Homo sapiens: one gene and its partners. The protein of the gene in region 4 interacts with the protein of the main gene of each other region in a biochemical or structural test. Each region holds a gene or a part of one and is shown on either strand. Other genes may lie near its edges. The genes, in order: IKBKB, PARD3, CCNT1 and PRKCI.

Evidence for each region.
Region 1: the proteins of PRKCI (region 4) and IKBKB form a complex in vitro, tested with the Homo sapiens proteins (one study listed by BioGRID).
Region 2: the proteins of PRKCI (region 4) and PARD3 form a complex in vitro, tested with the Homo sapiens proteins (one study listed by BioGRID).
Region 3: the proteins of PRKCI (region 4) and CCNT1 form a complex in vitro, tested with the Homo sapiens proteins (one study listed by BioGRID).

Annotation. Positions count from the first base shown.
Region 1 is NC_000008.11:42,330,276-42,332,981, reverse strand, and holds the end of IKBKB (inhibitor of nuclear factor kappa-B kinase subunit beta), read right to left. Parts: exon of another isoform or gene 2,643-2,706; intron 2,069-2,642; coding exon 2,003-2,068; 3' UTR 522-2,002; downstream 1-521.
Region 2 is NC_000010.11:34,805,274-34,812,320, forward strand, and holds part of PARD3 (partitioning defective 3 homolog), read right to left. Parts: intron 1-7,047. UniProt on the Homo sapiens protein: Adapter protein involved in asymmetrical cell division and cell polarization processes. Seems to play a central role in the formation of epithelial tight junctions. Targets the phosphatase PTEN to cell junctions.
Region 3 is NC_000012.12:48,687,943-48,692,739, reverse strand, and holds the end of CCNT1 (cyclin-T1), read left to right. Parts: 3' UTR 1-4,282; downstream 4,283-4,797. UniProt on the Homo sapiens protein: Regulatory subunit of the cyclin-dependent kinase pair (CDK9/cyclin-T1) complex, also called positive transcription elongation factor B (P-TEFb), which facilitates the transition from abortive to productive elongation by phosphorylating the CTD (C-terminal domain) of the large subunit of RNA polymerase II (RNA Pol II).
Region 4 is NC_000003.12:170,274,385-170,281,431, reverse strand, and holds part of PRKCI (protein kinase C iota type), read right to left. Parts: intron 6,204-7,047; coding exon 6,145-6,203; intron 1,206-6,144; coding exon 1,029-1,205; intron 267-1,028; coding exon 169-266; intron 1-168.

The DNA of each region.
Region 1 (2,706 bases), on a different chromosome or scaffold from region 4:
TTTTTGCCCAGGCTGGAGTGCAATGGCACAATCTCTGCTCACTGCAACCTCTGCCTCCTAGGTTCAAGCGATTCTCCTGCCTCAGCCTCCCGAGTAGCTGGGATTACAGGCATGTCCCACCACGCCTGGCTTTTGTATTTTTAGTAGAGACGGGGTTTCTCCATATTGGTCAGGCTGGTCTCGAACTCCCGACCTCAGGTGATCTGCCTGCCTCAGCCTCCCAAAGTGTTGGAATTACAGGCGTGAGCCACCGCGCCCGGCCTGGATTTTCACTTTTTAATCAATTACACTGTTTCAGCCATAAACTTTTTTTTTTTCCATTTTTTTTCTTTCTTTTCACAACTTGTCCTGTAACTGAACAGCCATAAACTTTTAAAATGACTGCTTTGGTTGGCATTTTCTTCGTCAAAATTCTTCAGTGGCTCAGTTGCCTGTAACATAAGCTCACAGCCCTTAGCCCAACATCCTTTCCCTCCCCAATCTGCCCGTCCTTGCCTTTCGGGTGTTATTTCCCACTGTCATTTACCAGGGTTTCCAAAATTGTGCTTTATTAAATGCTAGTTCATTGGAATGTTAATACATGTTTCACACACACAATCAGCAGGAGAAAATGTTTCTATAGCCAAATGACATTGATAAACAGTGTTCTTACACAAAGTTAAGCCTGTTTCTTTATTATAAGACTTTTCAGATACTTTCCCAGTGCATAGTGTGAATCTCCACAAAGCAAGTGAAACATGAATAGCTCCCTAAACTTACTTGACCACAGAATGCTTCATTCTATCTCCATGGAAACCACTTGTGAAAGTCTCCTACTCCAACTTTCTTCTCCAACAAAACTCACCTGTTTGTGATCATCTGAACTCATTTTGTGCTCTTGCCTTTATATAAAAGAGAAGTTCTGTGAAATGTTGAAGAAGCAGGGTTATGGCACTAGTAATGATCCAGGCACTATACAAATTGTTAAAATTTTCCATTATTTTAGTTCAGAAGCCCTAACCATAGGTATTCTAACAGTGGATTGTGGAACCCAGTATGAGTGTTTGAGACATGTTACAAAATATAGGAGCTATTTTTAAAATGAATCCATTTAATAATACTGCTAGATGCTGTGAGAGACAGGGACTCCCCGGCCCAGCACACACGCTTGAGCAGGAATGGAGACATGGGCATGGGTAGGCAGGCTGGTGGTCAGCAGATACCCTTTCTGTCCCTCCTCTGTGACAATCACCCCCAAGTAATTTTTGGGATTCAGAATAAGGCAGCTGCTCTCCCATCCTGGTTACTATGAGTCGCTCTTGGCAGAAAGGACCACAGATGGAGAGCTTGGCACTCGCTCCAACTTTGCCGAAAAGAGGACAACCACCAAAGTAGTAGGTAAAAACACAATTTTAGCAGCAGTGAAATAAAAAGAGGAAGTGAGGATGGGGCCAGGCCGCAACTATAATTAAACTGTCTGTTTAGGAGAAGCTGAATCCAGAAGAAACACAAGCTGTAAAGTGAGAGAGGACAGGGAGCAGGGCCTTTGGAGAGCAGGAGAGGACAGGCTGTCACCAAGCGCTGCTCGGACTCTGCCCTGAAAGATTTGAATTGGACACTGTCCAGTCACGTGTGTGGCAAACCGTACTCCAAGCACTTTTCTCACGGCAGAGGAAGGAGCTGCCATGGCTGTACCCCTGAACGTTTGTGGGGCCAGCGATGTGCGCTGGGCCTCTGTAATGGAGGACCTCCAGTGTGCAGACAAGGCGCCGGCAGTGCCCACGGAGGGCTGCGTCCTGGGTCCTGGGTGAAAGTCACAGCTGCTGAGGAAGCGAGAGCTCCATCTGGATACCAGAGACCCCTGGGCCATCAGTGCAGCAGGAACCACCATGTGAGAGCCGCGGCCAGGCAGCCCCACGTCACGCGGCCTGCTCCAGGCAGCCCCATGTCAGGGGGTCGAGTCCCCCCACTGCACAAGGCCTGCTATGGGCTGCCCCATGTCAGGGGGTCGAGTCCCCCCACATCATGAGGCCTGCTCCAGGCAGCTGTGCTCTTCTTCTTCCGTCTGTAACCAGCTCCAGTCTAGGGCCTGAAAGTCAACAGACATGTTAAAAAAACAACAGCCACCAACACATTTCAGGTTATTTTTCCTCTTCAGGAGGAAATCAGGACAATTGAGAAATATACTAAAACCCAGCCAGGCACAGTGGCTCATGCCTATAATCCCAACACTTTGGGAGGCCAAGGTGGGCAGATCATGAGGTCAGGAGTTCGAGACCAGCCTGGCCAAAATGGTGAAACCCCATTTCTACTAAAAATACAAAATTAGCCAGGCGTGGTGGCAAGCTCCTATAGTCCCAGCTACTCAGGAGGCTGAGGCAGGAGAATCACTTGAACCTGGGAGGTAGGGGTTGCAGTGAGCTGAGATCGTGCCATTGCACTCCACCCTGGGCAAAAGAGCAAGACTCCATCTCAAAAAATAAAAAATAAAAAGAAATATATTGAAACCCCTTTATTGGCTGGGTATGGTGGCTCATGCCTATAGTTCCAGCACTTTGGGAGGCAGAGGCGAGCGGATCGCTTGAGGCCAGGAGTTCAAGACCAGCCTGGGCAACATAGCAAGACCCAGGCTGCATAAAACAAATAAATTAAACAAATACAAATTAAAAAGCCAAACCCTTTTATTAATAAATCTTGTGACTGCAGGGTACTCTTAAGCTAAGTTAC
Region 2 (7,047 bases), on a different chromosome or scaffold from region 4:
TTGAACCCAGGAGGCAGAGGTTGCAGTGAGCCGAGACTCTGCCACTGCACTGCAGCCTGGGCAACAAAGTGAGACTCCGTCTCAAATACAAGAAGGGAAAAACCAGACACTAGAAAAATATACATCTGAGTTCCAAAACCTTAAATCTTACAGTGTCTGAATAGTTAAAAACACCAAGATTGGGAGAATGTTGACTTGACTATCATCTCTAAAATGACTTAAATTTATACCACCATAAAAGATCACCCCAGAAATACACACGTATGTGCATATATATATATATATATATATATACACCGTACAGTTCGTATCATGCAATATCATACATCTGTAATTCACAAAGGGAATTGTCTTAGTCACTTCTGAGCATGATGTGATTTACATTAAAAGATACTTACCTTGAGACAATAAGAAATTCTGGGGCCGGGCGCGGTGGCTCACGCCTGTAATCCCAGCACTTTGGGAGGCTGAGACAGGCGGATCACGAGGTCAGGAGATCGAGACCATCCTGGCTAACACGGTGAAACCCCACCTCTACTAAAAATACAAAAAAATTAGCCAGGCGTGGTGGTGGGCACCTGTAGTCCCAGCTACTCGGGAGGCTGAGGCAGGAGAATGGCGTGAACCTAGGAGGTGGAGCTTGCAGTGAGCCGAAATCACGTCACTGCACTCCAGCCTGGGCGACAGAGCGAGACTCCGTCTCAAAAAGACAAAAAAAAAGGAAGAAGGAAGGAAATTCTGAAGGACACCCTAGACAAATTTTTTTTTTCTGTTAGAGACAGAGTCTCGCTGTGTCACCCAAGCTGGAGTGCAGTGACACCATCATAGTTCACTGCAATCTCAAACTCCTGAGCTCAAGCAATCCTCCCACGTCAGCCTCCTGAGCAGCTGGGACTAAAGATGCACACAACCATGTCTGGCTAATTTTTTTTTTTTTTTTTTGAGATGAATCTCCCCATCGCCCAGGCTGGAGTGCAGTGTCGCTATCTTGGCTCACTGCAACCTCTGCCTCCCAGGATTCAAGTGATTCTCTTGCCTCAGCCTCCCAAGTAGCTGTGATTATAGGTGTGCACCACCATGCCCAGCTATTTTTTGTACTTTAAGTAGAGATGGGGTTTCACTACTTTGGCCAGGCTCGAACTCCTGACCTCGTGATCCACCCACCTCGGCCTCCCAAAGTACTGGGATTACAGGCGTGAGCCACCACACCCGGCCTATGCCTGGCTAATTTTTTTAAAAAGAGACGGGGTCTCACTATGTTGCCCAGGCTGGGTCTTGAACTCCTGGCCTCAAGCAATCCTCCCACCTCAGCTTCCCAAAGCTCTGGGATTACAGGCGTGAGCCTTCTCACCCAGCCAACCCTAAGCAAAATTTACCCTAACTCTGAATAGCATCCATTTGACCTGGAGAGCAAGCCCCGTCATTTCAAAGTTGGGGGGGTCGGGGTGAGGCAAAATATTCTCACAGCATGGAGGGAAGCAGTAAGAGGTCCTGGACCCTGTATAACCATCTGAAAAGCCACTGCACATCACTTATGGTCCCATGAGCACCAAAACAAACCATGCAGAGCAGGAGTCCCTGCACAGCTCAGGGAACTGGCAGTGGGAGTCCAGCCCAGCACCTCTGAATATGAGAACATGGGGAAACAGAGGCTCACAGAGCTTGTAAGATTTGCCAAAGCTCAAAATTTCTGGGAGCCAAAGCCAAATGCTGGAAAGGCTGGTCCATTACGTGCATCCTTGGGGCATTCTCAACCTCCACTGCACAAAGGTAGCTGGCGAGCTGGGTAGAAGGAGTCTCTGGCTAAAGAACAATTGGTGAAGCCCTTAGAGGGGGTAGGGGGTAGCACACAGAGACCAGGGGACCTGGAGGCTCAGCAGCCAGGAGCTTACCAGACACTAAACAGGACACATTGGACAGGCCTGAGAAAGCAGGGATTCCACACTATATGGAAAACTCCTAAAGACAGCCAGTTTTCATTTGAAGTGTTTTGAGCATCTCTGATACACATATATATGTCATTTTATGAAATGCTCAGAACTACAAAATACCTAAAAATGGAGCGTTGTTCATAGTGGCTTATGCAGTCTATTTTTCTAACATCTTTATTGACATATAATCACATAACCATAAACTCCATCCATTGAAAGTATACACTTGAATAGAACTGTGCAACCATCACCATGATCTTAGAATATTTTCATCATCCCAAAAGGAAACCTCATACCCATTCACAGTCTCCATGACTCCAAACTCCCAGTCCTAGCGGAACACCACTCTACTGTCTCTATAGAGCTACCCACTCTGGTCATGTTATAGGAACAGAATTATACAATATGTGGGCTTGCTGCTATGAACACTGATGTACAGGTTTTGTGTACACATTTTCATTTCTCTTGTGTGCTTGTGTGTGTGTGTATATATATAAAGAGTATATATAAAATATATACAGAATAGAGTACAGAGACTATATACAAAATATACTCTGTTTAGGTGAAAAAAATAAATAATTGATATTTAAAGTCACTTGGATGTGGAGCTTGAAATTTTACTTGCAAGGACCAATATGAGTTGATGGAGAAAAAAGGAATACACAAAAGTAATATTTAAATGGCAAAAACCACGTAAAGATAGCAGGCCAGATGCAAGAAGGCACAGACCTATACACGAAAGTTATTTTAACTTTATTTACTAAAATGTTTACTTATTTACTAAATAAGTTAAAACAAAGTTATTTTTACTTATTTGCTAAAATTTAGGCCAGGCATGGTGGCTCGTGCCTGTAATCCCAGCACTCTGGAGGACCAAGGCAGGTGGATTGCTTGAGCTCAGGTGTTTGAGATCAGCCTAGCCAACATGGCGAGATGCCGTCTCTACAAAAACTACAAAAATTAGCCAGGTGTGGCGGCACACAACTGTAGTCCCAGCTACTTGGGGGACTGAGGCAGGAGGATCGCTTGAGCCTGGGAGGTTGAGGCTGCAGTGAGCAGAGATCACGCCACTTCACTCCAGCCTGGGTGACAAAGACCCTGTCTCAAAAAAAACAAAAGAAAGAAAGAAAAAACTTGTAAATAATGACTAAAAGACAAAAAAAAATCAGTCATCTTTCTACTTTATTCACTGAACTCGGCATTTATTTTGATAAAGATTTGCTTTTGTACAGAAAAGGTACCCAAAACAGGTAAAACTGTATACATTTACTGATGTCCAGCTCTACTGCCATTGACCTTGGTCCCAGCCAGGAATGTTGAGCGAGTGGCCAAGCAGGATGAAAGCATGCTGTGTGGGCTTAGCATGCCATCTCCCCCGATGGAAAATTACCTATAGAAAGCACCTTCTGGCCCAATCTTACATGTTTATTTCCATCCTTGATAAAAAATACCGAGGGCTCTAATCATCTATGGGGAGCTCAACATCACCAACTTGCACCCAACTCTGTGGGGAGGTAGAACCTCCCAGGACAGACGGAGGATCCGTCTGTGGGTTTGCATCCAAGTGGGACTTTAAATATTCCCTCCACAACCAATTTATCCATGTCTACCACAAGCCAAGAAGCGCTTCACATCCGCCAGATTCTCTCTGAGAATCTCAGATCCTAAACATTCCTACTTAGTCCTGGCACTCAGCCAAGCATCTCAACTGACGGAATCAGAGGCGCCAGACCAAGCATAGGTGTGTTCCAGGGCCAGATTCTCACACAGCCCTGGCCACCTGCCTTGAACCTCGCCCAAGGCGAATCCCAGGAGGGTCCTCTGCTTGAGCTGAAAAACAAACTGAACTCCCTCAAGACAGCTGATACGAAAGAGTAACTTCCAAGTACTCCAAACCTCATTAAATCTTAGTTTCCATTACAAGCTGTTTGTGCCAGTAGGTCAAACACACCAAACCTTAAAGTCCTTTAAATTCACGAGTGCTGATGATAGTCCTCTCAGCAGAAGTGTATTTTTTGTGTGAGAGCAGTGTAACATGTTGATTCTCAGCTTTCTATTTACTCAACATTCTGACTGCAATGTGACAGACACGGGCTATTCACCAAGACTGAAGCTCAGCCACCGCTTCAAGCATTTCACCCGGAGGGAGGAAGGGCGCACGGATACACTTGAAAACCACACAGCACAGCCCAAGCATCTGAGTCGGTACAGGAGCTACACCCAGGACGTCCCCAGGAGAGGCAGCAGGCAGGGAGAAAGATCCTCTAGCAGCTTGGGATGGAGAGCCAGCCTCCTGGAGATGGCTGTCTGGGCTAAGACTCACGAATGAGTGCAAGGAAGGAGCAAATGTCCCAGGCAGAAGAAACAGAAAATGCCAGAACAGAGGCAGCAAAGTGTATGTGAGTCCCAGGGGGTGGAGCAGCTGCAGAGGGAGTGGCTGGAAGGCAAGAGGGGTCCCTACAGGGACAGGCTGTGCTCAGAAGGCAGGACTTGGAGAACGCGGGACAAAGGCGCTTCAGCACCAGAGGACAATGTGACTTGAATTCTGGAAAGATCAGCCTTTCAAAAATGTTTAGTTTCTTTTTCCTTTTTAGAGGGAAGGCAGAAAATGTTAAAAAAATAAATAAATAAATAAAGCTGCTTTCATTTCACTATTTTTATGCTTGCCTCTATTTTCTTTCAATCTCTGCAACAGTACAACTATTTTCTTAAAAGTTTCAATACGCTTGTAAATGAATAACATGCAGTCATACATTTATTCACAGAAAAATTCCATACCAACCACAAGATTTTTCATAAAAACCATGACTGTCATTGTTACTAATCAACAGTCTCCCGCCACCAAAAAAGCACATTTTCAAAAGTTTCTGTCCATGAGCTCAACTTTTTAAAAAATACAGGTCAAGCATCCCTAATTGAAAAATCCAAAATCCAAAATACTCCAAAATCTGAAACTTACTGAGCACCCACATGACGCCACACCTGGAAAATTCCACATGTAAGTACTTACCACAGACTTATTTTCAAGCACAAAAATACTGCATAAAATTACCTTCAGGCTATGTGTATAAGGTACGTAGGAAACATAAATTCTAACAATACATTAGACTTGGGTTCCATCTTCAACCTATCTCATTATATATACAAAAATATCCCAAAGTCCAGAAAAATCCAAAATACTTGTGTGGTCCCAAGTATTTTGGATAAAGGATGCTCAACCTGTAATAACAACAGGTTGCTATTAAATCACTCTAAAGTGATGTGCTTGGGGACAGAAGCCAGAGGCCCCAATAATCAACCTGTAATCAAGCCAATACCCGCAGCTTTTACTTCCCCAGCCCATACACACATGCAACACACAATTTTGTTCTCCTGATTGTGGTGCTGCACGTCATTCAATCTCACATTCTTACCTATCCTTCAATGAAATTACATGCTGCGTTTTTAAGTAAACAGGAAAAATCCAAGCAGCAATAGTGGGACACCTGGGAAAGTTCCCTGGGTGTAAAACTGCTTGGTGGATAAAACATATTGGTGATTCCATTCATCTTTACGGAGCAGCTAGTATGGGCCGGGCCCAGGACTTTAGAGTTTCCCTCTCATCATCCTGTTTAATACTTACATTAACCCTGCCAGGGAATATTCCACTTGAGATAATGGGGCTCCGTAGGGTTGGTGTACCCAAGGTTAAATGGCCTGTAAACCTAAGTCACCAAACCCAATACAAAGCTCCCCTATACCCAAGGTTAAATGGCTTGTAAACCTAAGTCACCAAACCCAATCCAAAGCTCCCCTACAGGCTGAGAGGAGAGCTATGAGGGAGGTGGGAACAGTGAGCAAAGGGGCTCCAGCACCTCCTTGCCCTCACTTTTGCCCTTCACTCTCTCCTTCCCCTTTTGGTCACTCAGCAACCTTTATTTAGAATGAAATGCTAAGGAATTATCCATCCAAACCTCATCTAAGGTTGCTCAGGTCATCCTCCTAGAACTACTTGTTACCCTGACTCTTAGCTAAACACCACAGTCCTTCCTACTGCACGAAGTCTCAGGGTCTTGCCCTGGCATTCTGTCCTCCTCAGTTTGATCCTGACCCCCTGGGCTGAATGCCTGAATCGCCTTTGTCCATACTGCCTTCCTGGAATGCCCTCCCTTTCACTTATCAGAATCGTAGCAGACATTCTGCAGATTCACACACCTAGACCCCAACTGCAGACCTCAGACCCAGAGCCCATCTGCCCCTGCAGGCAGGTGCCTCACCCAGTTAGCAAGCACTGCCCTATATCAAGGTCAGCCTTCCCACCAACCAAGCCCAGTTCAAATCCTAGTGACTAAATGAGACTCCCACACACACCCCATAATGATAGCACCCACCTCCAAAATCCAGAAGCGATTACTGACTGTATCACAGTGGTGCCAATTAATGCTACCACCTCCTGTTATTTATACTGTTATATATTCTTCCTGTCTCCTAGATTATACTTTTTTTTGAAAATTGCACGAATTCAGTCTTATATTTTTTTCATAGAGCATGACTTTTTATACACAGCAGCCCTTCAACCAACCCCACACAGCGCTGCAGCTCAGCACCATGTCCACCTGGAATCACGCGTGTCAGGTCGCAAGCGCAGAAGAACAGATGCAGACACGGTCCATCCTCCCATCCTGCGCCCTCATGAGAACGGTCCATGTAACGCGGTTCCCAATGTCTAGCACCGCACTGTCCTCAGCGAGGCTCCTAATGCAGATGGGTGGATGAGGATGAACAGCTATTCCCAACCATCAGTGATCACAACCACAAAACCATCTTTCAGGAGAGGAAAAAAGAAATGTCACACATGACTAAGCATAAGCCTTCAAATATCTACTCACTGAGGACATGTCTAGTATTAAATCATGACACTTCACTATCCAGAAAAATTGATTTGTGTAATCTGAAGAGAAAACAGCTCACATGCAATGCCAGAAAATTAGCCCCACCACACCAGAAAATGTTTACTGCAGAGAAAGCCTTGGTGATTTGAGAGTTGGGACCTTTCTCTTTTCCTTTTTATTTTTTATTTTTGGCTTGGTTGGTTATTATCCAAAGCCATAAACATGATCTGCCCACACTTTTCCCC
Region 3 (4,797 bases), on a different chromosome or scaffold from region 4:
GAGTTGATATCTTCCCTCTTCTTGCCAGAGCTGAAAAATGGAGGGTTTCTTGTATCAGACAATTGTGGATCCTTTCGGTGTTTAATATATCAGAAGAGAGGAAGTATTTAAACGTCAAATCTTTTAATAGACTTAATAATTTAAAGAAAGTAAGTTATCTGTTTAGTTTTTTTATATAATTGGGAAGGGGATAGGGATTTTGCTGTGTGTATATGATACATAGCAGTAACTCCTGGTGGGTGGGATTGGAGGGTGGGAATGTGTGAGGGTGGGTGGGAGGCTAGGTTTTTGGCTAGGAGTTCTGAAATAGGCTCAGGCCACTTTTTTCAGACTTTTAAGTGTGTATGTAAGTGTGGGTATGTGTGTTTTTAAGTGTGTGTGTTTAAAAATAATGTTTTATCTTCCCTCCCTGTTCCTTACCGTTTTCATTTTCCAACAGTCTACTAGAGAAAAACATGGTTGGCCTTGAGAACATAAAGGAAGAGGCATGTATTTGACATGGTATTTTTCCCTTTCTTTATGTTATAATTGAGTAGTAGCCCTCTAATTTGTAGTTTGGGCAAGTACAGCCAACACCCTGACTCTTAACCTTATTATGAGAACTTCCTTTTTACCCCTTTTTTTGTTTTTGTGCAAAACAGAGATGGGGTTGAGGAAGGAGGGTTGGCGAGCAAGGCCAGCTTCTGCCCTACAGAATTGGGTGTGTCTTTTTTTTCAAGTGAGGCTTTGGGAAAGTGTTCAAATGAGAGCAGTCTTAAGGTCTCTAAGAGATGGGGAATGTGCTATGTATATCCTGCCTGTGAAAGCCCAAACCATATGGGAGAAGCTAGAGGATACTAAAAACAATGAAATTGTGATTTGGAAGTTTAGAACATTGTTTTAAAAATTACATTATAAATGTAAGACATGCTTTTTATGTGTATATCCGAAGGGAAACAGCTACATCCTCAAGTTTTTGCAGCCTATATGACTTGAGATTGGAGCTTGTGAATTTAACAGTACTGGTGCCATGAGAATGAGCAAAGCCTAGCCAATGGATACTATTGTGTTTAGATTGTTCATCTTTGGTAGCTTTAGGTTCTTGATCGAGGTTCTTAAGATTTCTAAGTCCTTTATAAAAATAGGTCAAGAGTCCTGTTGTTATGGAGGCTTGATTATCCCAGATATTAGGAGTGAACATTTTTAATAAATCTTTCAGAAAATCTTGGCTAGAAAGAATTCTAAGTTAGTTGTCTAACCACTGAAAACTACCTAGCCAGAGATCATTTAATGAGATATTCTTTGATCTTCATTGCATTTTTTTTGCTCTGGAAAAGGTGGTTCAATTTGAGTTTGTTTTCATGATTTGATTGCAGCTTACTTCATGCCAAGGATTTTTTAGGGAGAGGTCGAATTATTTTTCATTTGGAAGTCATAGGGAGACAGGAGTTGTACTTATGCTGCTACTTGCCAGGAACAGGTTGGGAAGAAAATTGTGGCTGTTGGAATTGATGATGTACTGGCCTAATATAGAAAGGAATTTGTAGGCAGGAGTAAACGTTAACTGACGGTGGGTTAGTGCCCTGCATCTTGCATATTTGAACTGTCTAGAGTTCCTGCCATTGCTGGGTATAAAACGAGGAGCTCTCTGTTGACCTGTAAATCATTAATACTTCTTGACTTAGAGTGTCACTTCACTTTATAGATGACATTTTCCTCTTTCCCCTTGATATTTTCTATGTTGTGTTAGATAATTGGTAGATATATAGTTGTGGTTTAGTACATTTAGGGCTTCTATTTATTTAGATTTTGTTTGTTGGAGTCTGTTTCCAAAAGGGAATGTGCCATTTAGTCTGCATCTGTATCTTTGTGGACTTGATGATCACTGGTTTGATTTTGAAAAATGTCTTTTCCAGCTTTTAGTTACTCTCATCAAATGTCACATATTTTCTAATCACATGCACTCCTTTACCACAGAGGCACATAATCATTTGGCCTCATAGCAGTTATCCATGGCCGTACTGTAGTAAAGTTCCTTAGAACTTTGCCAGGAGTGAACTAGAAAAAAGTGCTTACTAGGGCCTAAGAGTTGCTTTGTGCCGTGTAGTCCGGCCTTTGCACTAGTAGATCATTGCTGACATAGGTCAGTTTAGAGACCTTTCTGTGTTAATGCCTCCTGGTACTGTCTTAAGATACGTACAGTGTCTGTTTTTAGATCTATGCATATGTCATGAAGCTCCTTGTGGGCTCTGCATGAAGCTGCTGCTTTGTTTTTGGGTTAACAGATGTGCCTGTCAACTAGCATGTGTATTGTCCAAATTCCATAAACTTAAGGTTTTTAAGGGCTGTGTGGTTTCTGAGCTCTATGTGTCTTTCCTATCCTTGTACCTTCAAAGGGTGAGAAATGAGATTTATACATCCAAAGTTAGTCTGATAAATATGGCTTTTTGTTTCTCCATGTAACCTAGACTGTCAAAAATAAGTGATGGTGATAAGTAGGCCTGGAGCCTCAGCTTCTGTAAATCTCATTCCTAAAATTTTGCTAGACTCGTGTTGGCAAAAACAAATACCTGTGGATTGTCCTTAAGGCTTTTAATCAGATACCTGTGTTGCTGTTAGCTGAACTGTAGTGAAGCATCGATCCAAATCGGTCTTCTGAAGTATCAGTTATGCTTTTGAGTTTAGAAAATACTTAGGTGTTAGTCTAGTCTTCCCATTCATGAATCAGTGTATGTCCATATCAGAGAGCCTCAACTTCTTTTTTCTTCCTTTTTAAAAATGATTTTAGTGTTTTGATTTAGTGTATACTACATAGTTCAGTATTATTGGCTTTACCAGTGTTGACAGAAAAATTTTAAATCTCCAGTTGCAAACAGCAATGGATTAGGATATGGAAATAAAATCATGGTGACATCACTGCTGAGTTATCTTAAACCTCTGCTACTTAATTCTCCATATTGAAATGCATACTCCTCCACATACATGGCTTCCAAGTAAAGGCAATTGTAGAGGGGCCCTGTCTATCCCAGTATGGTTGGATTTTAAACATATCTGTGTTTCCGTTATTTTGGGAACTGATTAATATTTACAATTTTTTTTGTTTATGAGTTATTTTGATACTAAGAAAAGAGAGAATCTAGAACATCTTGCAGTTGAAATACAAATTTTATTCTTTTGGTCTTGGGAGAATTTAAGCAGTCTATGCAACTCATCAAATGGTGAGAAATAGCCCTCCGAGGTTCCAGTAAGCTTTCAGTGACTTTGATACCTCCCCAAGTTTCTTGAGTTGCTGCTTGTTAACACCCAGCTTTTAACTGAGTGTTTGCTCCTGATGGTTTAGGAGATTTTCATGTTGTATCACACTGTCAAGTTTTATTTTGTCTTTTTATCCCTCCGTGGATGTGAGTTTGAAACAAGCACGGTACAGTAATCCTGCCTGATAGAGTAGTCTGGAATGAGAATTACTTTTTGGGTGAGAGAGTTCTCCATTTTAATGTTTCTAAAGTTTTTCATATGAACTTGGCATTGGAAAAGGGAGGTAAAGAAAAAGGACGTTTACTAAAAGCAGTGTCTACTCTTCCCCTTTGTGAGTGTTTATTCATGGCTAATGAAAAAAAGAGAAGGACTCTTGGGTTTTGTGTTGCCATGTTAAGCATGGAGAGGGATGCTTGACAGCATGCTAATTGAAGCCAGAGCAAGTATGTCCTTCATCAGGTAATCAGGAACTCTTCAGTTGAAGCTGAGGAACTAACTGATTAGTTGTTGATCATAATATAATTGGTTACAAAGTGGAAGTGCCAGCTGGCTTAAGTACCCAAAGAAAAGAATGCAGCAGCCTAACTTAGTGTTACCATATGTTACTGAATTTGAAACTGACCTTTTTTCCCACCCTACTTCACACACCTAAAACTCTTTTCTTGTCAGACCAAAGAGCGAAAAGAAAAAAAAAAGTAAAACACTTTACCAATCTGTCACTCAGGTACAATTTTGTGGTGAGATTTTTGTCTGTTCTCTTTGTATTGCTCTTAAGAGTCCTTTCTCAGCATATTATTCTGCCATTGCCTCTGTCTTCCTTGGGGCACCTCAGCTCTGGATGCTACCCCTGGGATATCTACTGCTGTTATGTGAATGATAGGAGGTAAGTGACCATTATAGTAAGGGCTCTTTGTAAAAAAATTCAAAAAATTTAAAAAGGATGTATACATTTTATAGTCTGGCTATCAGTTTGATATCTTGCTGTCAAGTATGTTTCTCAATCTGTATTTATCCATCCCATCAATAAATGTTAATGGTAAAACACTCATTTGATTGTTGTTTATGTGTACTGTCCTCAAATTAGTCCTTAGTCTTTTTTTTTTTTTTTTTGAGACGGAATCTAGCCCTGTCACCCAGGCTGGAGAGTACAGTGGCGTGATCTCGGCTCACTGCAACCTCTGCTTCCCGGGTTCAAGCGATTCTCCTGTCTCAGCCTCCTGAGTTGCTGGGATTACAGGCACCCACCACTATGCCCAGCTAATTTTTGTATTTTTAGTCGAGACGGGGTTTCACTGTGTTGGCCAGGCTGGTCTCGAACTCTTGACCTCAGGTGATCTACCCACCTCGGCCCCCCAAAGTGCTGGGATTACAGGCATGAGCCACCGCGTCCAGCCTAGTCCTTAGTCTTTAACTGTAATTTTATTGATATGTTTACAATTTTGTTTCAATTTTGGTATTAGTCTGTTTTCTTATTGTGCAAGATCCTGTGGGAATTGAGTCCGTTGGAAAGACCCAAGATTTGTCGATCAGTAAACCCAGTAGTATAAAGTATGTTGTAGTCAA
Region 4 (7,047 bases):
ATCAAACTGATATCACTGATGGCAGTATTATTAGCAGGAAGTTATAAGCCTAACACTGTTGCATCCTCCATGATATCAACTTCATGAATTAGGGCAGAAAGGTTCTAACTGTGTAATATGACCAAAAATATGAAGCCCAGTAATCATTCTACTATCTTTCAATCTTACCTGCTTTCTGTCTGAAAGCAAGAATGCAGCCCAACAAGGAAAGGATGATTGGATGCCTGCTCAAACACATGCTTCTCTGTCTGTACCCAATCAATATCCTATTTTGAAACATGTAAGAAATCTATGTCAAACTGATATCACAATTAATGATAAATTTGCTCTGAGCAATTCAATGGTCACAAATGCAATGGTTAACTAGGCTAAATATCAAAACCATTGATAATCATGAAACGAAAATTTACATACAAAGAGAAAAATAACACTAGTCAATCTTTCAGTATTATAAAACTGTCTAGAAAACTTTTACAAAGCTCAAGTATTTCTCCTGATAATAATGTGGTTTGATTTTTGTTTTTTTAAAAAAATCTAATAATCAAATTACTTTAAATATCTTATACCATCTATAAGAAAAGTAAACCGAAATAATATATTTCATTTACTTAGCACATATTTAGAAAAGCAGAATGAGATAATAAAGCACAAACATAGAGGTTTTCTTTAAAATAGTACTCTTGGCTGGGTGCGGTGGCTCACGCCTATATTCCTAGCAACTTTGGGAGGCTGAGGCGGGTGGATCACTTGAGGTCAGGAGTTCAAGAGCAGCCTGGCCAACATGGTGAAACCCCATCTCTACTAAAAATACAAAAATTAGCTGGGCATAGTGGTGCATGCCTGTAATCCCAGCTACTTGGGAGGCTGAGGCAGGAGAATCACTTGAACCTGGGAGGCAGAGGTTGCAGTGAGCCAAGATTGCACCACTAGCACTCCAGGCTGGGTGACAAGAGCGAAACTCCGTTTCAAAAAAAAAAAAGAATAGTATTCTCAAGCAGTTTAGAAGCAATAAAATATGCAGTGCTTACCTCATCATCATTAACAAGCTCTTTTTTCACAACTTTCATTGCATAAATACGATCTGTTTTTTTTAATCGAACCAACAGTACTTTGGCATAACTTCCTCTTCCTATTACCCGGAGCAAATCAAAATCCTGAAGACCTAGACTGGATGAAGCTTTGCCACTTTCCCTGGTGTTCATTGCCTGTTGAGAACATTTGTATCAGAGTTATAATGGGAAATGCTTTGCGTAGTACATTATATTTCTAACACCTAGTTGTACCTATAACGATTTAAAGATATTTTCCTAACATAAAAATATTTTAAGTTCTTAATATTTTTCAAATGTCATTCCAAACCAAATAATCTAACTATCCAGATTATATGGATGAATTTTGAGATAAGAGGGATGGTAATAAGAATGGGGAGGGAGTTGAAATCACAAAAACATCGAAGGATGTCTTAAAAAGGATACGATAACTTTTGGGTACAGAGGCAATAGAGATGCAGGAATTAAAAAAACACATTAACCTTGGTGACCAAGAGATTGGGGGTACCACTGACAGGGAACGTCAAGTGTGTGGCTAGGATAAGATTGACAAAGTTACTGGAGAGAACGATTGGGTTTTTCATGATAAATTCAGAAGTTATAATGAGACATCAAGATGAAAGAGTCTGCTGGAAGCTTGATACATAGAATGTAAGCTAGTGAGAGCACACATTCAGAGGCGTTTTTGGATGCTATAGACAGAAAACAAGCATGAAGTAGTTCAGCGAATGGAAGACATTCTTTTCCACAGAATACCAAGACCCCTTTGGGACGACAAAGTAAGCCTTAAAATTCATTCACAACTACAAATGTAAGCTTCTAGCAATTTACAGAGAAGCCTGAAGACAGTCTTTTATTAGATGCCTGCAAAATCATCAGCACACAATGGACCCATGAGAATAAAGTATGAAATCTCTGAAGTGAAGAATACCAAGAAAAGCAAATAGTAAATTTTGAGAAAGATAAAGAAACCCGCAAGCACAAAACTGAAAGAAGGGTATTAGAAAAACTGAGTGAGAATGACAACTTAAAAACTTAGAAATAATAATTTAGGCTGCGCACAGTGGCTCATGCCTGTATTTTCAGCACTTAGGGAGGCTGAAGCAGGTGGACTGATTGAGCCCAGGAGTTCAAGACCAGCCTGGGCAATGTGCCAAGAAACCTCATCTCTACCAAAATATACAAAAATTAGCCGGATGTTGGTGGTGTGCACTGTAGTCCCAGCTACCTGGGAGGCTGAGGTGGGAGGATCACCTGAGCCAGGCAGGTCAAGGTTGCAGTGAGCTGTGATTGTGCCAGTGCGCTCCAGCCTGCATCACAAAGTGAGACCCTGTCAATAATAGTAATAATAATAATAATTTGATTTGGTAACAAGGTGATAGTTTGTATATCTGACCCCTCCAAATCTCAAATCTCATGCTGAAATGTGATCCCTAGTGGGAGGTGTTTGGGTCACAGGGACAGATTCCTCATGAATGGCTTGGTGTGTTCCTGTGTAATGAGTGAGTTCAGAGTGTGGCACCTCCCCTGACTCCCTTGCTCCCTCTCTTGCCATGTGGCACACCTGCTTCCCCTTTGCCTTCTGCCAAGACTGAAAGCTTCCTGAGAAGCAGATGCTAGTGCAATACTTACTGATCAGCCTGCAGAACCGTGCACCAAATAAATCTTGTATAAATTACCCAGCCTTAGGTATTCCTTTATTCCTTCCTTCATTTATTTATTTATTTAAGAAAAGGTCTTGTTCTGTCACCCAGGCTGCAGTGCAGTGGCACGAACATAGCTCACTGCAGCCATGAACTCCTGGGCTCAAGTGATCCTCCTGCCTCAGTCTCCCAAGTAGCTGGGGCTACAGGCATGTGCCTCCAAACCCGGCTAATTTTTATTTATTTTTTGTAGACATGGAGGGTCTTGCTATGTTGCCAAGGCTGGTCCTGAACTACTGGCCTCAAATGATCCTCCCGGTCTAAAGTCCTAGGATTATAGGTGTGAGCTGCCACACCCAACCTTCAGGTATTCCTTTGTAACAACACAAAACAGACTAACACACAAGGGTAAATACAGCAGAGTGAAAAGAAACCAGGTTTGAGAAGGTTAAGAAAGAAGAGAAGTGTAAGAAAGTAAGTCAACACATAGACTTGAAATATGGCTAACTGGAAACTATAAGAGAGAATCAAGTGGAGCAAAAAAGATAGAGTTAACTTCACCGACACAATAATAAGGCTGAATGAAATGATAGACGCCACTTAACAGTGAAATGTCATCTTCAAAGGGCCTAAAAAAGAAGAAAACAGCTGACCTAGAATTCTCTATCCTGCAAAAGTAGCTCACAAAGTGAAAGTGAAAGAAAAACATTTTCAGACAAAGAAAAACTGAGTGGATCCATCACTACTAGGTGCTCACTAAAGGAAAAACTAAATTGAGTTCTTGAAGGAGAAAATGCATGATCTCAGATGGAGGAACAGACGTAGGAAGGAAAGAAAAACAAAAAGGGTAAAATGTGGGTAAATCTACATAAGGAGTAACTGTTTAAAAAAACAAATATACACACACACAGAATTTTAAACTCTGATAATAATAACACCCAAAGGCAGGAATGGAAAAGGAATGAATTTAAGGTGTGCCAAGGTCACTGCATCTTCTAGAGAAACAGTAAAAGTGTTATTTGTAATTTTCTTTTTTTTTTTTTTTTGAGACGGAGTCTCGCTCTTTCGCCCAGGCTGGAGTGCACTGGTACAGTCTCTGCTCACTGCAAGCTCCGCCTCCTGGGTTCACACCATTCTCCTGCCTCAGCCTCCCGAGCAGCTGGGACTACAGGCGCCTGCCACCGAGCCTGGCTAATTTTTTGTATTTTTAGTAGAGACTATGTTGCCTAGGCTGCTCTTGAACTCTCAGGCTCAATCCTTCCGCCTTAGCCTCTCAAAGTGCTGGGATTACATGTGTGAGCCATCACGCCCAAGTTGATTTTTTAGTAACAGCTATTCTGACTGGTGTGAGATGGTATCTCACTGTGGTTTTGATTTCTATTTCTCTGATAATTAGTGACGATGAGTGGTTTTTCATGTGTGTTGGCTGCTTATAGGTCTTATTTTGAGATATGTCTGTTCATGTCCTTTGCCCTTTTTTTTTTCTTTTTTTAAACAGTGTCTTGCTCTGTCGCCCAGGCTGGAGTGCAGTGGCATGATCTTGGCTCATTGTAATCTCCGCCTCCCCAGTTCCAATGATTTTCGTGCCTCAACCTCTTAAGTAGCTAGTATTATAGGTGTGTGCCACCACGCCCTAATTTTTTTTTTTTTTTTGTATTTTTAGTAGACATGGGGTTTCACTATGTCAGCCAGGCTGATCTCAAACTCCTGGCCTCAAGTGATCTGCCTGACTCTGCCTCCCAAAGTGCTGGGATTACTGGTGTAAGCCACCATGCCCAGCCCTTTGCTCATTTTTTAATGGGGTTGTTTTTTGCTGTTAAGTTCCTTATAAATTCTGGATATGAGATCTTTGTTGGATGTATAGTTTGTGACTATTTTCTCCCATTCTTTAGGTTGTCTGTTTATTGGTGGATTCTTTTGCTGCGTGGAAGCTCTGTAGTTTAATTAGGTCCCACTTGTCAATTTTTGGCTTTGTTGCAATTGTTTTCGGAGACTTAGCCAAAAATTCTTTGCCGGGGCCAATGTCGAGAGGATATTTCCTAGGTTTTCTTCTAGGATTTTTATAGTTTGAGGTATTACATTTAAATCTTTATTCCACCTTGAGTAAATTTTTGTATATTGTGATGAGGGTCCAGTGGTGACACATGCCTGTAGTCCCAGCTACCTGAGAGGCTGAGGTGGCTTGAACTCAAGAAGTTGAGGCTGTAGTGAGCCATCATTGCACCACTGCACGGGTGCCTGTGCAATAATCCTGTCTCACAAAAAAAATAAAAAGAAAAAAAAAAGTTAAAAAGAAAAAAAGACTTTTTCAGACAAACAGAACAAGAAACTAAAACATAACATCAAATAGGTGACTAACAGGTTTCTTCAAAATAATACAGGAGTGAGGGAAGTGAGTAGACAAAATAAGGCTAGACATGAATTGATAGCTGTTTTAACTAACAATAGATACAAGGGCTTTGTTATATTATTGTTTACTTTTATTTATGTTTCAAAGTTTTGGCTGGGCATGGTGGCTCATGCCTGTAATCCTAACACTTAGAGAGGCTGATTTGGGAGAACTGCTTGAGGCCAGGAGTTCGGGACTAGCTTGGGCAACATAGTGAGACTCTGTCTCTACAAAATAGAAAATGAAAAAATTAGCTGGGTGTGGTGGCACAGGGCTATAGTCCTAGCTACTCGGGAGGCTAAGGTGGGAAGATAACTTGAGCCCAGGAGTTTAAGGTTGCAGTGAGCCATAATCACACCACTGCACTCCAGCCTGGGCAACACAGCAAGACCCCAACTCAAAAAAAAAAAAAAAAAGAATGATACGGGAAAGAGAGGAGGCAGTGTGAACTAAATCTTTCATGTCCAGAAATACACAAAAATAAAAAATTGAAAAACAGAAATATAAATATTATGGACATAACTAGAAATGGTTTAAAAGGTTGCCAAGAAGCCAAACTGGGAGTGGAAGGTGGGAGACATGATTATCTTTTTCACTATAAGCTTTTTTCAAAAAACTGATTATTATTTTAATCAAATCATTTTAATTATTTGTTTTGTTTTAAAAACTGATAAAATACTTAATAGTCAAAAAAACAATGACAGTTAATATGTTTAATCATTTATTGTCTAAATAAGCAATTCAGGCACAAAACGGAAGGGTCTACTATATATTTTAAACAATACTACCAAGTATTTTAAACAGTATCCTTAAATACATTGTAATTTTCAGATTAAGCTATTTTAAAATGAAAATAAGTTATCCCACTAAATTATTTCCTAGTTTAAATTAGTAATTTAATTACTAAATTAAATCAGAATAAAACTCTGGAATCATTACAAATCATTTTTGCATTTCACCATTATGATCTAAAGTCTAAGCAGGTCAATATGTCATACTTTTAAACTCCTGAGCCTTATTAAAAAGCTAATGATATAATGTACAATAAGACAAATTATCTTACCTCTTTTTCTTCACCAACTTGATCCAAACTCTCATGACTTGAAGGATTATATGGAATTACTAAAAACCCAATACCAAACATTAAAAAAAAAAAAAAAAAAGGTGCAGGAGAAAAAAACAGCAACCATTAATGAGTTTGAAATAAAAATTGTCTCCTGATTTTTATTTTAGTTTTTACTTCTGAATAAATTTTCATTATTTAAAACTGACTATCTGTCCTACTAATAACAAATTGTATGTAAATACAATAGTTAAATCCTAATCTTTAGTGAGGGTAAAGAGAGCAAGCATCACAACCTGGTAGCCAAGTACTGCTTTTAACAAGTACTTTCGTTATTTTTAAAACATTTCTCTTCTTTACAAATTAATCAAACACTTCCTTCTAAACAAATGACTCTATAAGATATGTTTAAATTTTTTAGTATGACTAAGACATAGAGATACAGGACCTCTGGTTTTCACTTCTCACTCCATTGTACTCAGAATTTTCCTAACTACCACAATGGTCAAGTAAAGAACAGACAAGGATGGAACTTCTACTTCTTAAAGCTACTTGGGGCAAAAAAAAAAGAGCCTGCATTTCATAGAGTTGATCATTCTATGACTACGAGATTGCATTTTGTCTTTCCAGAAAAACTCCCTTGTTTTCCCTTTCTTGATTTAGTCCAGAGAAGATCATGCTGTTCTACCTCCTTGCACTGCTCTCCAAATTTCCCAGATACGTGTTTAAGGTTTTGTATCTATCTAACGTTTTCAGTTACACCATCTTCCTGGAATTTCCTATATTGCATCTCTCTATGTTTCACATAATTTCTACTTCTGATAATAAAGCTTTTAATAAAAACAAGTCACTTCAGCTGGGTGCCATGGCTCATGCCTGTAATCCCAGCACTTTGGGAGGCCA